3 separate regions of the Homo sapiens genome follow, and all the other regions are linked to region 3. The links come from fine-mapping of genetic effects on gene expression. A gene starts in region 3. Each other region holds a variant in brackets. All regions are shown on one strand. Distances are between the middles of the regions. Region 1 holds the start of LOC124902872 (a long non-coding RNA gene). Region 2 holds the start of CLEC4E (C-type lectin domain family 4 member E). Region 3 holds the start of CLEC6A (C-type lectin domain containing 6A).

What was found.
Region 1: its variant is fine-mapped to the expression of CLEC6A in whole blood (TOPMed, PIP above 0.99).
Region 2: its variant is fine-mapped to the expression of CLEC6A in whole blood (TOPMed, PIP above 0.99). The same link has a PIP of 0.9 or more in blood mononuclear cells and monocytes.

Annotation. Positions count from the first base shown.
Region 1 is chr12:8,561,363-8,568,394 of GRCh38, forward strand. LOC124902872 (a long non-coding RNA gene) reads right to left here and starts at 6,574. Exons shown (of 3, transcript XR_007063203.1): 1 at 6,132-6,574; 2 at 3,366-4,863. LOC105369645 (a long non-coding RNA gene) reads left to right here and starts at 3,129. Exons shown (of 4, transcript XR_007063201.1): 1 at 3,129-3,219; 2 at 3,308-3,454; 3 at 3,561-3,654; 4 at 4,161-4,711. RefSeq lists enhancers at 2,020-2,652, 3,287-3,918. The variant C/T (reference allele first, on the strand shown) is at 2,997.
Region 2 is chr12:8,537,731-8,544,762 of GRCh38, forward strand. It overlaps CLEC4E (C-type lectin domain family 4 member E), which reads right to left and starts at 3,175. Exons shown (of 6, transcript NM_014358.4): 1 at 3,031-3,175; 2 at 2,125-2,217; 3 at 1,487-1,576. The coding sequence starts at 3,067. The variant T/C (reference allele first, on the strand shown) is at 3,092.
Region 3 is chr12:8,453,034-8,460,065 of GRCh38, forward strand. CLEC6A (C-type lectin domain containing 6A) reads left to right here and starts at 2,929. Exons shown (of 6, transcript NM_001007033.2): 1 at 2,929-3,109; 2 at 4,865-4,954; 3 at 6,564-6,665. The coding sequence starts at 3,079.

The DNA.
Region 1 (7,032 bases), 110 kb after region 3:
GGGAGAGACTGTTTTAGTCCCAGTATGTGAGCAAAAAACCCATCCTAGGACAGCCCTGGGGTCATCTGTCCTATTAGCCCTGTAGAGGTGTGTTTAGTGGGAAAAACAAATAATTGAACTGAATACCATGGATCAATGCAATCTAGTTGCCTCTAAGAAATAGCTTGCTCTATCTCTTCAATTTCCCTTTGTGCTGCAGGAGTTAAATACCTAGAGAGTCTAGGGCAGCATTGTCTTTTAAGATAGACAACAGGTTCTGTAACTTATCAGTAGTTATGCCCAAGGTTGGGCGAAGCCAGTTAATATCACCTAGTCATTTCTGATAATCATTCAAGGTATGTAAGTTGCCAGTATTTAATTTAACATTTTGGGGTCTTACTGACCGGGTAGTTAGTATATACTCAAGGTATTTCCAAGGAGAGGAAATTTGTACTTTTTCAGGTGCTACGATTAAACCTCTTAACTGTGTATTCCTTATGACAGAGGCACGTAACTTTAAAAGTACTGGCTCTGTTGGGGCTGCTAGTAAAATATCATCCATAAAATGAATAATCTTGCAATTAGGAAATTCTTTTCTACTGGGGAGCAAAGCCTGATTTACATGATACTGACACATGGTAGGACTGCTCAGCATTCCTTGGGGTAGCACTTTCCAATGAAATCGGTGAGCTGGCCTTTCATTATTGATAGCTGGTATTGTAAACACAAATTTTTCTCTGTCCTGTTCTGCAAGGGGAATAGTATAAAAACAGTCTTTTAAGTGAATAACGATTATAGGCCAATCTCAAGGAATCGCTGCAGGGGAGGGGAGCCCCTACTGAAGGGGCCCCATAGGTTGCAAATTAGCATTGATAGCACGCAAGGCATGCAAAAGTCTCCATTTACCAGACTTTTTGGGGATGACGAAAATGGGCGAATTCCAAGGGTTGTTTGACGGTTCTGTATGGCCGGCTTTTAATTGCTCCTCAACTAATTCATGGGCTCTTTGCAATTTCTCTCCCTTTAAAGGTCACTGTTCTACCCAAATAGGATTTTGAGAGAGCCACGTCAGGGGCAGGGGAGAGATAACAACAATGGCCATTATTAGAAAGAGGTCTGCAGAGTGACCGCAATTAACCCTCTCGTAAATGGGCTGGTGGCACCGCCTACTGGCCTGGAGGTCAAACTGCACAGCTCAATGTAAAACCTGCAGAGTAAAGTGCACCTGGCTATCTATAGAAGCAAAACCAAAAGACCCTACCCAACATTTCCACAGTCACGCCCCCAGGGGAAGGGGAATAATAGTGGGAAAAAAACCCATCAAAATGAAAATAAATTTAAAAATAAGAAGTGTCAGCTTCCCCAAATGAGAAGAAACCAGAGTAAGGATTATTGCACCATGAAAAATCTGAATGCTGTGACACCACCTAAGGATCAATAGACCTTAACCAAGATGAACACTCAGAAATGACAGATGAAAAATACAAAGTATGGATTGCAAGGAAGCTCAATGAGATCCAAGAGAAGCTTGAAAACCAACACAAAGAAACCATGAAAGCAATCCAGGAGATGAAGAGATAGATATCTAAAAAACAGAAGTTCTAAAAATGAAAAATTCACTTAAAGATTTTCAAAATATATTTGAAAGCTTTAATAATAGATTAGGTCAAGCAGAAGAAGGAATTTCAGAGCCTGAAGACTGCTCTTTCAAATTAACTCAGTCAAATAAAAATAAAGAAAAAAAGAATTTTTAAAAAATGAAAATTCAAGAAATATGGGATTATGTAAAGTGACCAAACCTATGACTTACAGGCATTCTTGGAAGAGAAGAAAAGATAAGCAACCTGGAAAGCATATTTAAAAGAATAATTCAGAAAAAATTATCTAATCTTACTAGAGAAGTAGACTTCCAGGTACAAGAAAGTCAGAAAATACCTTTAAGATACAAAATGCCACTGCACTCCAGCCTGGGCGACAGAGCAAGACTCTGTATCAAACAGAAACAAAAACAAAACAAAGATATGCTTGCAAAAATATGAAATGGCAGATGCACATGGTTATTTGCACCATTATTTTCAAAAGTCAAACTGGAGCACCATCTGAATATTCATCAAATTCAGGACTGATGAGGCAGAGCAACACAATGGATTATTATGCAGATATACAAGAGAATGCGGAAGCTCTGTAAAGTAGGGTGTGAACTCCAGGACACAGGGTGAAGTGAAGAAAGCAAGGTGCAGAAATTGCACACAGTATGCCATCTTTTGTACTGGGGAAAGGAATACAAAGCAGCGGGGAAAGGAATGTGTATGCATGTATATGTAAATACAGTCATTAAAACTGAAAACAAAGTGGCACAAATAAACCTAATTCCCTATCGAGTTGGCATTGCTGCCTTAACCACACAGAGGAAAGTAACTGACTTCAGAGCACAGTATCTTCACTGTATTTCTTCAGTATGATATAATCCAAAGACACAAATACTGCATAGACATCTCAATGTCACTTGAAGTGAAATAACATAAAAATGGGAACAGACTCCTGCTGCTGCTCCAGAAAGATGAACATGAGAAAGGGACCATTATCTCTAATGTTTTCTCATGTAGAAAATGCAGGGAATAGCTTAAATCGAAGTTCAACTTTGGGAGCTGATAATTGAGTGAAAGTCTTCTTCCTTGATTGCCCTGGGAAGAAATCTTCATTTTTGGTTTGCAAGACCATGAAAATGAGACAATAAATACAACAAATGAAATACTTTACACTCAAAAACTATTTTTAAAAAAACAGACAAAATATAGAAAATAAGTATAAGTAACATATTCAAAGAGACATTAAACGACATTTTATTAATTTTAAAAGCTATAGATTATAGAAATAAAAATTTTCCGTATGAAATTTCCCTCCTAAGGGTCGGCCCAAGTCCAGGACCTGTCTGGGAATTGTGGACATATCGGTAGGACACGGGCAAGGATTGCCATCTCGCTCAGCACCTGTTTCCTTGAACGATGAGAATAACC[C/T]ATCTCTCCTGTTTTAAGTGTGATTTGTCATATACATCAATAGGCATCTTGGCTCAACATACGAAAGCCCCTTTCCACAGAGACAGCTGCCTCCAGCCTGAAGAAGTTGCCACAGGAGGTAGAAGGAGGTCCCTTGCCCATGCCTGGGAGACCCAGCCAGAGTGGACAGGGAGGCGGCCCGGGCCGGGGTGCCAGACTCAGCAAATAAACACAGCATGCCCAGGTAACTCTGAATTTCAGATAACCAACGAATAACTTTGTGTGATACTATATTTGTACTCAAAAGTAACTCGTTTATCTGAAATTCAAAGTTGACGGCGCATGTGGTACTGTATTGAATCTGGCAACGCTCCACCTTGGTTTTCCTACCCGGGTTTGTGGAAGGGGCTCCCCCTGCCCCGCAGGTGCCGCCCCGAGGAGGTGGAGGAGGAGGAGCCGGGCACTGACTGGGGACCCAGGTGAGTCTAGCAAATGACAAGGCCCAACGGTCAAAACCGCCTCAGTAATGCGCTCGTCCAAAGCACGCACTTAACGCTCAATCCTGGTGTCGCGTCCCGTTGCCAGGCAACGAAAGCAAGCGCTGCAAAGACGAAGGGGAGCGCCCAAGGATGAGGAACGTTCCAAGACACTGAGTGATTTGCTGAAAATCACACATCTAGTAAGTGGCAGAATCAGATAAGGAAACTGCAGCATAGACAGATTAAGTAATTTAGTTAAGGTCACACAAGTAGTATTTGGGGAAGCCAGGATTTGAGTCCAGGAAGTCAGGGTTCAATGCTCATGATTATCCTGATATAGAATAAAATATTTGTAGCTTAAAAGAATGAACCGGACATATCCTCTCTGATATTCTCTGTTGTTTCAAGTTCTCTTCATCAGGATATTCTGAAAAGGGGTTATTCACTCTTTTCCTCCATAAAGAATAGCGTAACTACGTGACTCATTAATAGCTCTGTCCAAATGAAAGAAAAATCTGACAGCGATTTGGAGCTTAATGTGAAATGGTGTACTCACAATAGATTCATATATTAGGATGGAAGGGTGTGCGAGATCATTTCTCCTGGATAGACAGACCCCCACTCCTGGGGGAGGGGTCACTCCTTGATTGAAAAAGAATGTTGCTAATTATACTCATGTTTGTCTTATGTTATTTACTAATTCTAGGATGCAAAGCCAGAATGCGAGCAGTGACCACCACACTTGACAAATCCGTTGTTGCACACATTTGTACTCTTCAATCAACAAAACCTGATGCAAAAAACAGAAAAGGGGGAGATGTACATGCATTTTCCCTCACTGCAAAAAAAACACAACTTGTTTAACTACAGGTGTGTTCCTGGTGGTCTTTGAATGAAGACATTGACAGAAAGTAACATAGCATGCTGGTTAAAGACTGTTTTTATTCGAATCCTGGCTTTGCCAATCAACAGCTGCATAAATTAAACTCTCGACCTCAGCTCCCTTATTTGTAAAACAAGAATAACAAAAAGACATTTTTATAAGGTTGGGTTGAAGGTTAAATGAAATAACAGAAGATTATCTCTTCACTAATTTTAGCTGTAGAAAACAGAAGCCAATCGAAAGAGCTCCCAGTCCAAAGCTGGAACAACTTGAACAACAAAATAAATAATGTAGCATTGGATTACAAACCAACCATAAAACAAATATCCATGAGTCTATACTGATGTCAATAAATGAATAAATGTGGGAAAATAGACAAATCTCCTTTCTCATACAGAAGGATTCCAAATAATTTGTGTAGATATTTCACTTTTAACTTGTTCTGTGGCTACGCATTAAGTCAGGATTTCCTTTCTTGCATAAGGAGGACAAGGAAGTTTATTGGACAGCATGTCAGTTCTCTTCACTCCATGCAACAACAAAATGAGGAAATTATGAAATGGTAAGCATCAACACAAATAGGCTGGCCATGGGGAAATAGGAGAGTTTTTTTTAAATGTTGTTTCGTTTTGTTGGACCAAATGTCTCTAGTTTCTTCAAGGCATAACTCATCCCCCAGTTTTTCCTTGACAATATGGAGCTCACCTCTGCACTCTCATAGCCAACTGAACTCATGGCAGGATGCCATGTTACTTGGGTTAATTTCTGGAAAGCTTCTACATACCTATTAGGGCCATCTGAAAACCTGCCAAGATCCCCCTTAGTTTGCAATAAATCCTGAAGAGAAAAGGGCACCTGGATCTTAACAGGGCCATATTCATCAGGCATCTGTTGTAGGGGCAGGAGTGAGACTGGCACCTGCCTAAAATGAGGATTTCTAGAGGTACCTAGAGGTATCTCTGGGGCTTGCTTCCCTATTTCCTTGGGATTGCCCCTTGTAACCTCTCCTGAGATGGCCACTAGGAGGGCTGAATCAATCCTACAATGTTGGCAAAGATCCAGGTTAACATGCAAGGCAAAGAAGGCCTGCACATAAGGGACCTAGGACCCTTTGCCCTCATGTTTACAGAAAAGCTTCCTTCCTGAGGCAAGGCTTCTCTTCTGTGCCTCAAGGTGCTTGGCACTAAGTTGGCAACCAAGTAAATTACAAGAACATTTTCACCACAAATTTACATACAGATACCAAGACACACTTTGCTACATCTGTGCTACTCTTACACTTTGGTGACCAAGCCAAATGCTCATTCCACCCAGTAATATCTCTGGCTTGCAACAACATCCTTTACATTTAACATCGTATATAAAAGAGATAGGAACCATGATAGCCATGAAAGAAAGAAAAGAACAATAGGAAAGGCTGAAGGTCCTAGTGCGGACACCCTAATGGGCAGTTGGGGACTGGAGTTAGTCCAGGAGCCTTTGAATAACACCAAAGTGTAGCCTTGGCCAGATACCCTCAGTTGCCCCAGGACCTCCTTCCAGTCCCATGAGATGGCTAGACCTCCATGAAGGGAAATTGGGTTAGAACAAAGCCAACATTCCCAACACCTGAGGTTGATGGGGGATTGACAGTGTCCCTCCCCAGCAAGCCTGTCCTTCATGTCTTAAGTTCTGCAGCTGCACTAGTTGCTTTTAACTGGTTGACAGAAGCCTGGTATTTTTCTTTCATTTTGACTATTGTGGAGTTTAGAGACTCCAAAAGAAAGGACAGAAAGTAGATCCACTTTTACTTACCCTTTTGGAGATCCCAGATGAGCCCCCAAAATGTTACAGTGTCACTGCCAGTGGTGCCAAATCCTGCCTATGCAGACAAGTGGAAGGTGAACAAGACAAAGAAGAGCTTTATTGAGTGTTACAGCTCAGAGAAAATCCACAGTGGGTTGCTCCTCTCTGTAGGCAGATCATCCAATCAAGTGTCCAGCTCTCAGCAGAGAGGAGGCTCTGAAGAGGGTAGCTCCTCTCTGCCCACTGGTTGCCCCATTGTCTGCTGTTCTTAGCAGAGCGAAGACCTTGGAGAGGGTGACTCCTCTCTGCAGGCAGTTCATTCAATGTCTCTGCAGGTCTCTGAAGCTCTCACAGAGAAGGTAGCTCCTCTTTGCAGCTGGTTGTCCAGTCCTCTCTCAGTCCTCTGTCCTCTGCCCTTCTCTGGCTGAGCCCAGGGCTTTTCTCTGCCCTCTACTTTACTCTGGCTGAGCCCTAGGCTTTTATGGACCTCAGATGGGAGGAAGTGCCTGCCGATTGGTCCATGACTGGCCATGGGTGGGCCTAGAGGAGATACCACATGTCCCCGCTCCAGTCTGTGGGACTGGCAGCTGGGCCCCCAGCCTTCAAGGCTTCCCTGGCCTGAAGGAGAGGCCTTACTGGGGACCGCCCCCTTCCACCCAGGAATCTGTGCACCTCCCCACTGCCATTTTTGGTCCCTGGCTCAGCTGCAACCCCACCCCGAGATTGAAGCAGGTGGTGGGAGAGAAGAGAGGCCAGGCAGTGGAAGCATATCCCCTCAAGCCTGCAGGGACTGGGGGGCCTTCCCAAGGCCTGAAGGTGAAGGCTGCAGAGATGCCTGGCCCTGTACCTGGGAGGGTGGCTGCAGAGGCATCCGGGGAGCTCCCACACTACCAACTCAGAAGGGGTGGGG
Region 2 (7,032 bases), 85 kb after region 3:
ACGAGCTGTTCCAGTATAATAAAATATAAAACAAGAATAGTTATACCAGATATAGATCTTAGATATGATTATATATGAATATCATTAATCATTAGTTTGTAGCAATTACTTTTTATTCCAATATTATAATAATCCTCGCTCTATAATCATAGCCAAGGAAAAACCAGGCCGTACAGAGCTACGAGCTGAGGGGACATAGTGAGGTGTGACCAGAAGACAAGAGTGCGAGCCTTCCGTTATGCCCGGACAGGGCCACCAGAGGGCTCCTTGGTCTAGCGGTGACGCCAGCGTCTGGGAAGACGCCCGTGGCCAGGCAGACAGACTGTGGTCTAGCGGTAGCGTTAAGTGTCAAGGGAAAACACCCGCTACTTAGCAGACAGGAAAAGGGAGTCTTCCTTTCCCTGGGGGAGTTTAGAGAAGACTCTGCTCCTCCACCTCTTGTGGAGGGCCTGACATTAGTCAGGCTTGCCCGCAGTTATCCGGAGGCCTAACCGTCTCCCTGTGATGCTGTGCTTCAGTGGTCACACTCCTAGTCTGCCTTCATGTTCCATCCTGTACACCTGGCTCTGCCTTCTAGATAGCAGTAGTAAATTAGCGAAAGTACTAATAGTCCCTGATATGCAGAAATAATAGCGTAAGCTGTCTTTCTCTCTGTCTCCTCTCCCTCTCTGCCTCGGCTGCCAGGCAGGGAAGGTCCCCCTGTCCAGTGGACACGTGACCCACATGACCTTACCTATCATTGGAGATGACTCACACTCTCTACCCTGCCCCTTTCACCTTGTATCCAATAAATAACAGCGCAGCCAGACATTCGGAGCCACTACCGGTCTCCGCGCATTGGTGGTAGTGGTCCCTTGGGCCCAGCTGCCTTTTCTTTTATCTCTTTGTCTTGTGTCTTTATTTCTACATGCTCTCGTCTCTGGACACAGGGAGAGACCCACCAACCCTGTGGGGCTGGTCCCTACAGTTAGATTTCTTAGAATTACAGAACTTTTGCCTTTGAGGTCTATTATAAATAATTCTTCTAACTTCTCTCAATTTAATGGTGAGAAAATTATAGCTCAGAGAAGGAAGTCACTTTTTTAGTGTCATGTAGCATTTTGCTAGGACTTGCAACAGGATGACATAGAAGAGCATAGAGAGTATATTTGTGAGATATTTATAAATTCTCTACTCCATACGTTTTTTCTCCATCTCATTTTGGAAGTAGGTGAATGAAAAAAAAGGTACACTCCTGGGAATAATACCTTCCACTTCCAGATTTACTGTTCAGACATACCCCTCAAATTTATTCTAAAAGTTTACTATAATGTCCCCAAGACTTTCTGCCCCAATGCTAATTGCATCACCAAATTTCTAGGATTTTACATTTTGCTTTTGAAAAATAAGACCTAATCCAGCTATATCTCACCTGTCCCAAAGTCAATCTAGAAGCCAGAAAATGTTGCTTTGTAAATTTTGATGTTCACCTTTGGGACTATTATACCTGATCCATAATTGTAGCAGGAGAGCTCTGTGAAATTCTCAGGTAGCTGAAACTTTTTCTCATCACAGGTTTGAAAGATGCGAAATGTCACTGTAAAAGAAAGGGCATAATGTTTGTTAGTCTTATTTCGGTTAAAAATGTCAGTTCCCTCAGTTTTGTATTTATAACAAAAGTGCCAATAATTATCATGTTTTTTCTTACAATCTGCTTTTTCTTACGACCCAGAGAAAATAGATATGTTTGCACTACCTCTTATGCCAAGTCCAACTCTCTCTACCCTTCCTTCCAAAAGTAATTAGTCATATCTCTGGTGCCGACCAGTAGTTCAAGCTCTAAGGCAGACTCTCCTAGAGAAGGTTACACTAATGATAGAGGCTGAAAGAGGAGGATTCAGGACTGCCAAGGAAGTGAAAAATGTCTATCATGAAAAGTAAGTCACAGGTGATTAAAATTCAGAAACAGTTCCCTGCTTGTTGAGGTTTCTGGTTTGAGAAATAACCTAGAGATTAATAGGGAAAAAAAAAAGGGTGAAATAGAAAGACCCTTTGAGGGCAAAGAGAGTCTACAGGCAGCATGGAAGAGTTTTCTCCTAATATGCACCAGGAAGAATTAAATTGAATTTGACCTTCAGAACCCACCAACACATCTGGTGATGAAACAGGCACTGAGAAATAGGATGGGGATCCCAGCAACAGTCCATAAGAACATTTGGGAAGAGAAGCATCCTCTCTCTGTAGAAAGAAAGACACAAACATGATCAATCTTCCCTAAGCAAGGTACAAAAGAGATAGAAGAGATTCTTATTCATCCTTACTTATTTCCTTCTACTTCCATTGTTTGTACTGAGTAATTCCCAAATTTCAGCATGCTTCAGAATCACTTGGAGGGTTTATGGAAACACAGATTGCTGACCCTTACCCCCAGAGTTAGCAACTCAGTAGAGTTTGTATGGAACCAACAAGTTCCCAGGGGCTACTGCTGCTGCTGGTCTGAGGACCACACGTTTAGCACCCCTGGAGTAAGACTCTGACTCATGAACTCAGATATACAATTTTTCCTTTCTAAGTCTCTCAGTTAAATTTTTTTCAGTATTTTCTAAGGCCCCCCTTCTTTCTTTTTCTTTCTTTTCCCTTTTCTCGTCTTTGCTTTTCTTGTCCTTCTCCTGATCTTTTTTTTTTTTCTGTGTCTCACTTTTCAAGCGCTTTGTAAATTAGGTAAAATGTTAACAGTCATCTAATAGTTCCTCTCTTCCTCCCATTAAACATTTTACAGACAAAGAGAGTTCCAGAGAAGTGAAGTGACTTGCCAAAAGGGACACAATGTATTGCAGAAAGGGTGGAAACTGATAGCTCTCCCTTAGCTAGAGGCCAGCAGGCTTTCTGGTATAAGAAATAGTCTTTAAATCTCTCTCTCTCTCTTCCTCTGTCCCCCCACTTTTTTTTTTAACTTCAGTGAATACTTTTCTATTGTCCTGTCTTTCACCATATTTATCACTTGTTCCAAAAAGAGATCTATGGAAGGAAAGGAAGAGTTGCAGATTTTACCTGTGCATTGTGTTTCAGATGATTTAGATGAATTCATTTTTTCTCTCTCTTTGGTTTTTTG[T/C]TTCTCTCTCTCTCTTTTTCTCTCCCTCCCTCTCTTTCTTTCTCCTCAGGAGTGTTTTGTTGGTAAGATTCAGGGAGAATGAATCTTGAAAGATAAACACTTTGTCTTTTAGGAAGTTCAGCTCCGATAGATGTAGAATATTAACTTGTTCTGTGGCTACGCATTAAGTCAGGATTTCCTTTCTTGCATAAGGAGGACAAGGAAGTTTATTGGACAGCATGTCAGTTCTCTTCACTCCATGTAACAACAAAATGAGGAAATTATGAAATGGTAAGCATCAACACAAATAGGCTAGCCATGGGGAAACAGGAGAGTTTTTTTTTTAAATGTTGTTTCGTTTCGTTGGACCAAATGTCTCTAGTTTCTTCAAGGCATAACTCATCCCCCAGTTTTTCCTTGACAATATGGAGCTCACCTCTGCACTCTGAATTTCACTTTGGATCTGTACCATCCACACATTTGGTAACTGAAAAGAAGACTTAGACAACATAGCACAAAGCTGGGCATATAGTGTATGTATTTAGGACATGGCAACCTGAATTTTTTCATCTTTTTTTTTTTTTTTTTTTTTGAGACAGAGTCTCGCTCTGTCGTCCAGGCTGGAGTGCAGTGGCATGATCTCCGCTCACTGCAAGCTCCGCCTCCCGGGTTCAAGCCATTCTCCTGCCTCAGCCTCCCGAGTAGCTGGGACTACAGGCGCTCGCCACCACGCCTGGCTAATTTTTTGTATTTTTAGCAGAGACGGGGTTTCACTGTGGTCGTCAGGATGGTTTCAATTTCCTGACCTCGTGATCCGCCCGCCTCAGCCTCCCAAAGTCCTGAGATTACAGGCGTGAGCCACCGCGCCCGTCCTCTTTTTCATCTTTTATGGTTTTTCTTTCTTCTTCATTTGCAGCTCTTGAATATTCTAATGTTGTGGATTTATGTCCCTCTTATCTTATGCTGACTACTAGGCTGCTACTACTAGGCTGACTACTAGAGTCCCCCTCAGCAGGACAGCCTCATGTGATTAGACCACTTTGAAACTCAGCTTAGTTTTTCACAACATAACGCAGCTTCTGAAGTCTCAGAGACCCAGCAGGCAGTTTAATTCTCCTGTTCTCAATTATTTGGGGATTTTAGTTCTATGTTACAGCCTACAGTAGGAGAAATGTATTTGAAGGTCAGAAAAAGCAATTTCAATTAGATATTAGAATTTAATGGTTCTCTGGGCCGGGAGCAGTGGCTCATGCCTGTAATTCCAACACTTTGGGAGGCCAAGGTGGGTGGATCATTTGAGGTCAGGAGTTTGAGACCAGCCTGGCCAACATGGTGAAACCCCACCTCTACTAAAAATACAAAAATTAGCCAAGTGTGGTGGCACGCATCTGTAATTCCAGATACTTGAGAGGCTGAGACAGGAGAATAGCTTGATCCTGGGAGGCAGAGGTTGCAGTGAGCCAAAATTGCACCACTGCACTCCAGCCTGGGCGATAGAGTGAGACTCTGTCTCAAAAAAAAAAAAAAAAAAGAATTAATGCTTCTCTGGAAGAATAGTTAGATATGTGCCTTCTCCTTACTTAAAGATACTTAAGAATAAGATCACACTGGTCTCAGTTTATTTAAGTTCACGAGTCAGGAGGCATAAGTATGATGTACATGACTTGGTAAATCCCCACATCCAGTGACTCACGAATTTTCCATGTGTGAGAAAATATTCTTGTTCTCAAAGGGACTTTTTATTATTTCAAGGTACTGGTCAATTTTCTCTGCATTCTCTGTTTTATAGTAATACAATTTTAAAAATATCTTTAAATTATATATGTGTATATTATAGAATATACCCATATTTAATATGTGTATTCTCAGCAAATAGCTTTTGATCAGTAAAAAAAGAGAAACTATCTAGTGGATGAGCTATATGAATTATAAAATGATGAACATAATTACCACAGTCCATCTTTTATTAATTACAATCAACCAGCAACCATCAATATTACTAAACAATTGTATGTTAATTTTTATCAATATACAATTAAACAGAAATCAATAAATTAATATTTTTTCCAGCCAAAATGTTTTTATATCTTTTGTTTCATTGATTTTCCCCAAATTATACGAGTAATATGTTTTATGATTAATACTATGAAAAGCATGTGACAAGTAAAAGCCTTCTTAACTATCCTTAGTGCATTCTTCTAAAGTTGACCATGCTTAATGATTTCTTTTTTGGGGGGGGGGATTAATTTTTATTTATTTTTATTTATCTTTTATTACACTTTAAGCTTTAGGGTACGTGTGCACAACGTGCAGGTTTGTTACATATGCATACATGTGCCATGCTGGTGTGCTGCACCCATTAACTCGTCATTTAGCATTAGGTATATCTCCTAATGCTATCCCTCCCCCCTCCCCCCACCCCACAACAGTCCCCAGAGTGTGATGTTCCCCTTCCTGGGTCCAAGTGTTCTCATTGTTCAATTCCCACCTATGAGTGAGAACATGCGGTGTTTGGTTTTTTGTTCTTGCGATAGTTTGCTGAGAATGATGGTTTCCAGCTTCATCCATGTGCCTACAAAGGACATGAACTCATCATTTTTTATGGCTGCATAGTATTCCATGGTGTATATGTGCCACATTTTCTTAATCCAGTCTATCATTGATGGACATTTGGGTTGGTTCCAAGTCTTTGCTATTGTGAATAGTGCCACAATAAACATACGTGTGCATGTGTCTTTATAGCAGCATGATTTATAATCCTTTGGGTATATACCCAGTAATGGGGTGGCTGGGTCAAATTGTATTTCTAGTTCTAGATCCCTGAGGAATCTCCACACTGACTTCCACAATGGTTGAACTAGTTTACGTCCCACCAACAGTGTAAAAGCATTCCTATTTCTCCACATCCTCTCCAGCACCTGTTGTTCAGCAATAGATTCTTTGATTTCCCTTTTTAAATATCATCCAGGAACTTATCGTCTAAGTCCCTTTTCTAAACTATATTGCCTGTCAATATTTCAGGCAACTGAAAAAGAATCAGTAAAAGCTGTAAACATCTATGCCATACGAGTATTGTTAGTATCTACTTTTCTTTGATGCCAAGAGAAACATCACTCAATTTTAGCCTTGGGGCAGATTTATTTTTTGTCTTTTCATCTAACATGCAATCACTAACTGATCCCAGGGCTGCTGCTTCCCAGGTTGACGGCCAGCCCTTTACCCTTGAACTGCCATCTATCTGTAAGCCACACTGCTGCCTTGACAGCTGACCAGAGAGAGGGGCCTATTCAGCTATAGGTTTAGCCAACTCCTCAGGGGAACCAAATTTATGGTGACCTGTCAGCCACCTGACTGTGCATGCATTGGGTAACCCCATTTCACATTCTTGAGTATCTCCTTTCTATTCAAGGAGGGAATTCTGTGCATTTCATTTCTTGTTGGAATGATGATATGATATAAATAGGATGTTATGAGTTTTCAAATAATTTTATGTCCTTCAGTACAAAAAGCAGTTTCAACTAAAACCCAGTAACAAGCTAGCAATTCCTTTTAAATGGTGCTACTTCAAGCTGCAGCCAGGTAGCTTTTTATTACAAAAATCCCACAGGCAGCCACTAGGTGGCAGTAACAGGCTTTTGCCAGCGGCTCCAGTCAGCATGGCTTGACTGTGTGCTGCAGAAACTTCTTAAATCGTCTGTGTTTGGGACTCGTGGGGCCCCACAGGGCTTTACAAGGGCTTTTTAATTTCCAAAAACATAAAACAAAAAAAAATACAAATGTATTATCTTGCTCAAAACTTCAGTCAAATTTAGCTTTTTTCTTGATAACTTTATTAACAGGGGTATGCCATTTCTCCACCACATTAACAAGCCAACATCTTTGCACCTCTTGCTTTCATTTTGGAGCTGGCAGAGACAATTACTTATTTTTGGTTGTCTGAGGGATGCCTCTCATCTCCCCTG
Region 3 (7,032 bases):
ATTCTTTTACTGGACCACCAAGTGATTCAATCCTTGGGTTTGTGTTTCTTTGTCTCTGACGGGAACTGGAAACAAATGTTGACATCTTATAACCACTTCTTCTCTCTTGTCCTTTTATGATCAAATGCATCTCAAATTAACCATTGGGGAAGTTTTCTGAGCTTTTATCCTGTTACTCAATGTCTATTTCATCATTCGCTATAGCTGTAACTATCTTGTCACTTTAAAAATCCCTGTTCAGTTTAAAACCATTGTTGAGAGGTTTTTATGGAGGCTCTATTATGAAGGCATGGTTGGTTACATCATTAGCCATTAGTGACTGAACTCAATCTCCAGGCCTTTTTCTTCCCCGGAGGAGTGGGGCTGAAAGTTTCCATCCTCTAGTCACATGGTTGGTTCCTCTGGCAACCAGCCCCCATCCTGAAGCAGTCTTGGGGAACATCAAGAGTTACCTCACGAGCATAGACACCAGGCTTGGTTAAACTTGTTATGAATCATAAAAGACTCTCTTTTCATCTTAAAATTTTTTTTTTAATGTTCAGTTAGGTAACTATTGTTAATTTTTTTCTTTCATCTTTTATTGCCCTGGAGCTATTTCAGAAACTTGGAACAAAAAACAAATAGATAACATAAGATTTTTCTTACACCTTTATTACTCTAGAACATGGTTGAGAAGCTGAGGACAAAACCCAAACATTGTAACCAAATCATTTCTATCAACCAGGAAGTTTTAGGGTTTCAGAAGCTCTGTGATAAACAAAAATGAAATATACATGTTTCTTATAATATCACAAGTTCAATATTCTAGTAGATTTTCTTGTATACAAGATTGCTCACTTGAGAATGTGGAGCTGTTTGTGATGTTAATAGAATGATCTACATTTTAGAGACTGCATGTGAATGATTAAGTATTTCAAAGCCCTTAGGTAATGATTGGAGGAAACCAAAATAACCTTCTCTAAGATAACTGCAAATTGTTGAGCTGAAAAAGGTGGCAATGTAGGAGAACATTCTTCCCCTCCTTCTTCTTGCCTGTTGGCAGAACAACAATTTACAAAGACAAAGGTCTTCCTGTCTTCCTTTCTACTTTTCCCAGCTAAGGATTAGCTCCTTTACGATACTTGTAAAAGGATTTAGAAGCAGATTTTACTCTTCCTGTTAAAATACCTTCCTGTATTTCATTTCCTTTTGGAATCGTGAAGATACTCTCTTCTTTGTCTTTTCACTATCATCCTAAAGGAAGTAGCTGAAGCCACATTAATATAGAGAGTTTATTTGGGCAAAGGATGAGGACAGCTACCCAGGAAAACACTTGTAGGTTGCCTTGGGAAGTGGTCTAGAGAGCAAAGGAAAGACTGAAGATTTTAAAGAAAAAAGAATGAATCTGAAAAATCATGGAACCATCCCAAATGCTCATCAATCAATGAGTGGATAAAGAAACTGTGGTATAGATATACAATGGACCACTACTCAGTCATAAGAAGCAATGTATTAATAGCACTTGCACTGACCTGGATGAGATTGGAGACTATTATCCTAAGTGAAGTAACTCAGGAATGGAAAACCAAACATCATATGTTCTCAATGATATGGGGAGCTAAGCTACGATGACACAAAATGTATAAGAATGGTACAATGGACTTTGGGGACTTGGGGGGAAGAGTGGGAGGGGGATGAGGGATAAAATATTACAAATATGGTGCAGGGTATGCTGCTTGGGTGATGGGTGCACAAAAATCTCACAAATCACCACTAAAAACCTTACTCATGTAACCAAATACCACCTGTACCTCAATAACTTATGGAAAAATAAAAATTAAAAAAAGAATGAATCAGGAGAGGGAGTGAATTAAAAAGTTACTCATCAGTAAATTATCATTGGTTTACAGAAACCACATTGATTAGTAATTAGCTGTATACTGTTAAATTTTAGGGTTCAGTTAGTCTAGAACCTACATAGCAAATGGCTTCAAGAGGTAAATTTCGTGCAAGGTGGCAGTGAGGCATGACTCCTGTCATATCTCTCTCATGAGTCCACTCTGGACTTGATAGTTTCAAGGCACTCACATTCCTCAAATAACAGTTTTTTTTTTTTTTCGTTCTCAGCACTCCATAGATTTATGGCTGTTTGTTAACATACTATTTAAGCAAGGCCTGTAAGCCACTGCCATGAAAGAGATAAATACATTTGAACTGAGTTCTCTCCTGAGTGATGGGTATAACACACATTGATAAACTGCTGCTTTTTCTCTTGTTTCTCTGCCTTTTGTTTTCAGGACAGTGTCTCTACTAAGAATCTATGAGGACAAGAAAACATCATATATTTTCTGTGCTACAATATAAAATTCATGAAGCCTGTTTCTGATTTTATATCACTTCAGGCTCCCTTTTGCCTAATCAGGGAGATTACAAAATATCACTGACATCTGCCCAATATTAGTCTGGATGCAGTAAGAATGTTTCATCACCTTTGCAGACTGATTTCAGAATGTTTCATTTTGCAGTCACATTCCTTAACAATGTTCATGGGTTTTGTTATTTACTATGTTACCCTTCATATCTAAACCATATCCATCCAATCAAACTTTTGCTTACTACCTAGGACACTGTTCAACACATGGATTAAGGCTTGCATAAAATAAGCAGCCAATGTAAAGGTTAGTTAGGGAGCACTTAATTTAACCAAGTTCTCTAAATAGATGTCTTTTAGGAGATAAAAAATTTTCTATTTTGCATGCCAGAATGAATAGGAATCAGACAGAGAAATTTTATGTTAGAAACTGAAGAAATGATCTAAGTATTCTTGTCAAAGTTCTCATGAATGGTTTTCAATGTTTCTCAATTCCTCTTTTGTTTTTTTTAACCCCACGTATCGAAATCACTGGAAACTTTAGTTGTAATTGTGACTTCTTCTTTTGAGGTACACTTAATGTTGGAAGTCTCTTAGTCCTATAAGAGTGTGTAGCAGTTTGTCCCTGAGCTCTAGCTTCTTTAAATGAAGCTGAGTCTCTGGGCAACATCTTTAGGGAGAGAGGTACAAAAGGTTCCTGGACCTTCTCAACACAGGGAGCCTGCATAATGATGCAAGAGCAGCAACCTCAAAGTACAGGTGAGTATTTCCTCAGTTTCAGAGGAAAGTGGAAGTGTATGGTGAAATGAGATCACCTGGAGAGAAGAAGTAGCCAAAGAACAGATTGAAGAGCTAGTGATTGGACCAATATAGTAGACTCAAAGGAATTTGAAAGAAAGAGTAATTCTTCAGAGCCAGAGCCATAAGCACTTGAAAGAATAAGAAAGCAAATATTTTTTGGGAGGTTTGTACCAGATTTTATTGATAGTTTAGGGAGACAGAAAAGATTTACATGATAGAAGGTAAACAGGGAAATAACTGATTATTGGATGTCTGCTCTTCAAAGTCTTTTGACTAATTTTGAAATCCAGGAAGCAGTACTCTTTCCAATTACCCTAAGTTTTTTTGTACTTGCTTTTCTAATTTTTTTGTAAGAGAAAAGCTTCCCATTTTTAATGCATGAAAATTTGACTTTAGCTTCAACCCTTTGCATGTCCATCAATAATGTTTTAAAAAAATTTTTATTAAAATTTTTTATGGATACAAAATAGTTGTGCATGTTTATGGGCTCCATGTCATATTTTGACACAAGAATATGATGCGTAATGGTAAAGTCTGGAAAATTACATTATCCATCACCTCAAATATTTATCATGTCTTTGTGTTTGGAACATTCCAAATCTACTCTTCTAGCTATTTTGACATATGCAATAAATTATTGTTGGGTTAGGCTCAGTGGCTCACACCTGTAATCTCAGCACTTTGGGAGGCTGAGGTGGGTGGATCACTTGAGGTCAGGAGTTAGAGACCAGCCTGGCCAACATGGTGAAATCCCGTCTCTAATAAAAAGACAAAACTTAGCTGGGCATGGTGGCATGCACCTGTAATCCTAGCCACTCAGGAGGCTGAGGCAGGAGAATCACTTGAACCCAGGAGGTGGAGGTTGCAGGGTGCCAAGATTGCCTCATTGTGCTTCAGCCTGGGTGACAGAGTGAGACTCCATGTCAAAAAAAAAAAAAAGTTAACTACAGTTATCCTGCTGTGCTAAGGGACACTAGATTTTATTTCTTCTAGCTAATTGTATTTTTGTAGGTACGAAACAACCCTTCTCTATCTTCTCTTCCCAGTTAACCTTCCTGGCCTCTGGTAACCACCATTCTATTCACTACCTCCATGAGATCAATTTTTTTAACTCCCACATATGAGTCAGAATATGCAATGTTTGTCTTTCTGTGCCTGGCTCATTTCACTTAACACGATGTCCTCTGGTTCCATCTGTGCTGTTGCAAATGGCAGGATTTTATTCTTTTTTATGGTGGAATAATATGCCATTGTATATATTATACTACATTTTCTTTATCCATTCATCTGTTGATGGACACTTAGGTTGCTTTCATATCTTGGCTACTGTGAATAGTGCTACAATAAACATGGGAGTGCAGATATCTCTTGGATATACTGAAGAAACCAAATATCAATACAGAGATATGAGAAATGGGAGACAAAAGTGATGTTTTGAGAAACGAAATCAATGGAAACATGTAATAGTTTAGAAGAAAGAATAAAGACATGGAAATTCCAGTTGGTTGAGTGTATGTTTTACCTGTATTCTTTTGGACCACAGAGCTACTACCTGGTTATTTATTCTGAGGGAGTTTGTAAGCTGTCTTCTTGCTTTAAGTTTTTAACTGCTCTGAGGTTCTTCATCTAGTTTGTTCATTGTTGTAAGCTTCCTGGGGATTTTGGCTCCCTGGCCCCCTGGTAACTGCATTTGTTGTCTTCCTGATTGGACAGAGAAAAGAGGCTGGTTGTCCCTGAGACTCTGGTCTGTGGCTGGGATTTCCATTGCACTCCTCAGTGCTTGCTTCATTGTGAGCTGTGTAGGTAAGTTCTTCACTGAGGTGCATTTTCCTTGCTTCCTTTCCCTTGAATATTCCATACAGGTTTCCTAGGATATATTCTCCTTTGCCCCATTAATACGTCAGCTCTTACTTGGAATGCCACACTTTCCTTGATTTCTCCTTTTCCCTTTGTTTTTCTCCCTCTATCTTTTGAAAACTGAATTCTTGTAGATGTACTTTACCTGGTTTTATTAGCATTTTCTGAATCATGGCCTCACATATCCATGTTGTCCATTGTAGCCATCATCTAAGACACCATCTTTCAGGACTGGATTCACTAGTAATTGTGTGTTCCCTGGTGACAAAACTCTTGTATTGGGAGTGCAACTCTAATTGCTGTCATAATTGTCATATTCTATATTAGATTCTTTGATTCATGTGCAGATCCTTTCCAATGTGAGAGGAAAAAGTATTCAAATGAAATGATGGAGATAAAGAGGATAAAATATTTCTTCCCTGTTCTGCTTGCCTCCAAATACATGTCTCAAGTTCATTGTGTGAGAAGTCTTAAAGACCTTTTTCCTCTCCGATTCACAATTTGGATTTCTATTCATTGATAAGGTGATTAAAAATGGGTATTGAATAGTCTGGGAGGGAGTGAAAGTGACTTCCCCTGTCAATCAGGTTGTAGCTATAGTTCCCTCAGAGATTTAAATAAATCTCACAATATTTAGTAAAATACAAATAATTATCACCAAAGTTAGAATCTGTTTTACTTTTCATAATCAAGTGCAAGAGAGAAGGGGGTTTAAGAATAGTTATTTCATAAAAAGAAACACAAATTCAGGATCTCAAAACATGAACTAAGAGCGGGGCAGAAAGATTTGGTTGTATTGAGCTCTAGTTATAGAAGGACAAAAAAGAAATGAGTGAAGAATCAGATCAGATCCTGAGAGATAAAAGGTCTTGCTGAAAGTGAACATTAACATAAAAGTTAATGTTCATTTGAGACATTAAAAATATTTTTATAAACGTTTAAAGTTTCCCCTTGGTGGTTACTTAGCCCATATGTTTATGTGTGGCTACCTGCAGCTAGAATTATCTAGAAAACATCAAAATAACCTGTGTGCTTGCATCAAGGTTATTAAGGCTAAGGAGAAGCAGACATCCAGTGAGTCCATAAATATTTATTGATGACTTTGTGACAGTTACCCTTGTAGGTGTTTGTGATTAAAAAAAATTATCAGTTTTCACCTTCAGACTTCCTTCTTTTTTTATAATAAAATATTTTTAAATTATTATTTAAAATTGTGGGTACATAGTAGGTGTATATATTTACGGGGTACATGAGATGTTTTGATACCTTTAAGTTGTGTTTGTGATTAATTGTTGTGGGAAACAGGCAGAATCTCTGTCCAAGAGCATGGAGCCTAAATTCTAGTGGTGAAAAGACCAAAAAATTAAATGAGGGATATATATAAAAAAATAAGATAAGTGAATACAAGCAAATAATAATTTGGCATGGTTTTTATGGGGCTTGCCTAGAGAAACAGCAGTGGGGGTCAGAGGTAAGCCAGCACTGTACAGATATAGAGCCTAAGGCTTTATAGCAAAATAATAGATGGACACTAATCCTTCTTCTTCCTTTACAGTAACTTACCATTTTACATATGGTGAAACTGGCAAAAGGCTGTCTGAACTACACTCATATCATTCAAGTCTCACCTGCTTCAGTGAAGGGACAAAGGTGCCAGGTAAATCTTTAAAATACTGAAATAGACTTTCTTTTTTCTCAGGGAGAGATCAGGGTTGAGCTCAAGATTGGTGTATTCTATTGTGCATTTGTGTGTGTATGTTTTATTAAAGCCTCTGCTTGGATATTTTCATAATTTCTCTAAACATACATGTTCATATCAGGCTCTAGACATGCCTCCAGAATAATTTCTTCATCACACTTCTTGAGCTTGGTAAATATTATAAACCTACATGCATGTAATTTGCTCAGGCCAACCCTGGAAATTATTTATAACAATTCTTACAGTTCTTACATTCCCCTCACCCTCCATCATAAAATAATTTCTTTGACATTTAAGGTTTCCAATTAATACTACCCATCTCCAT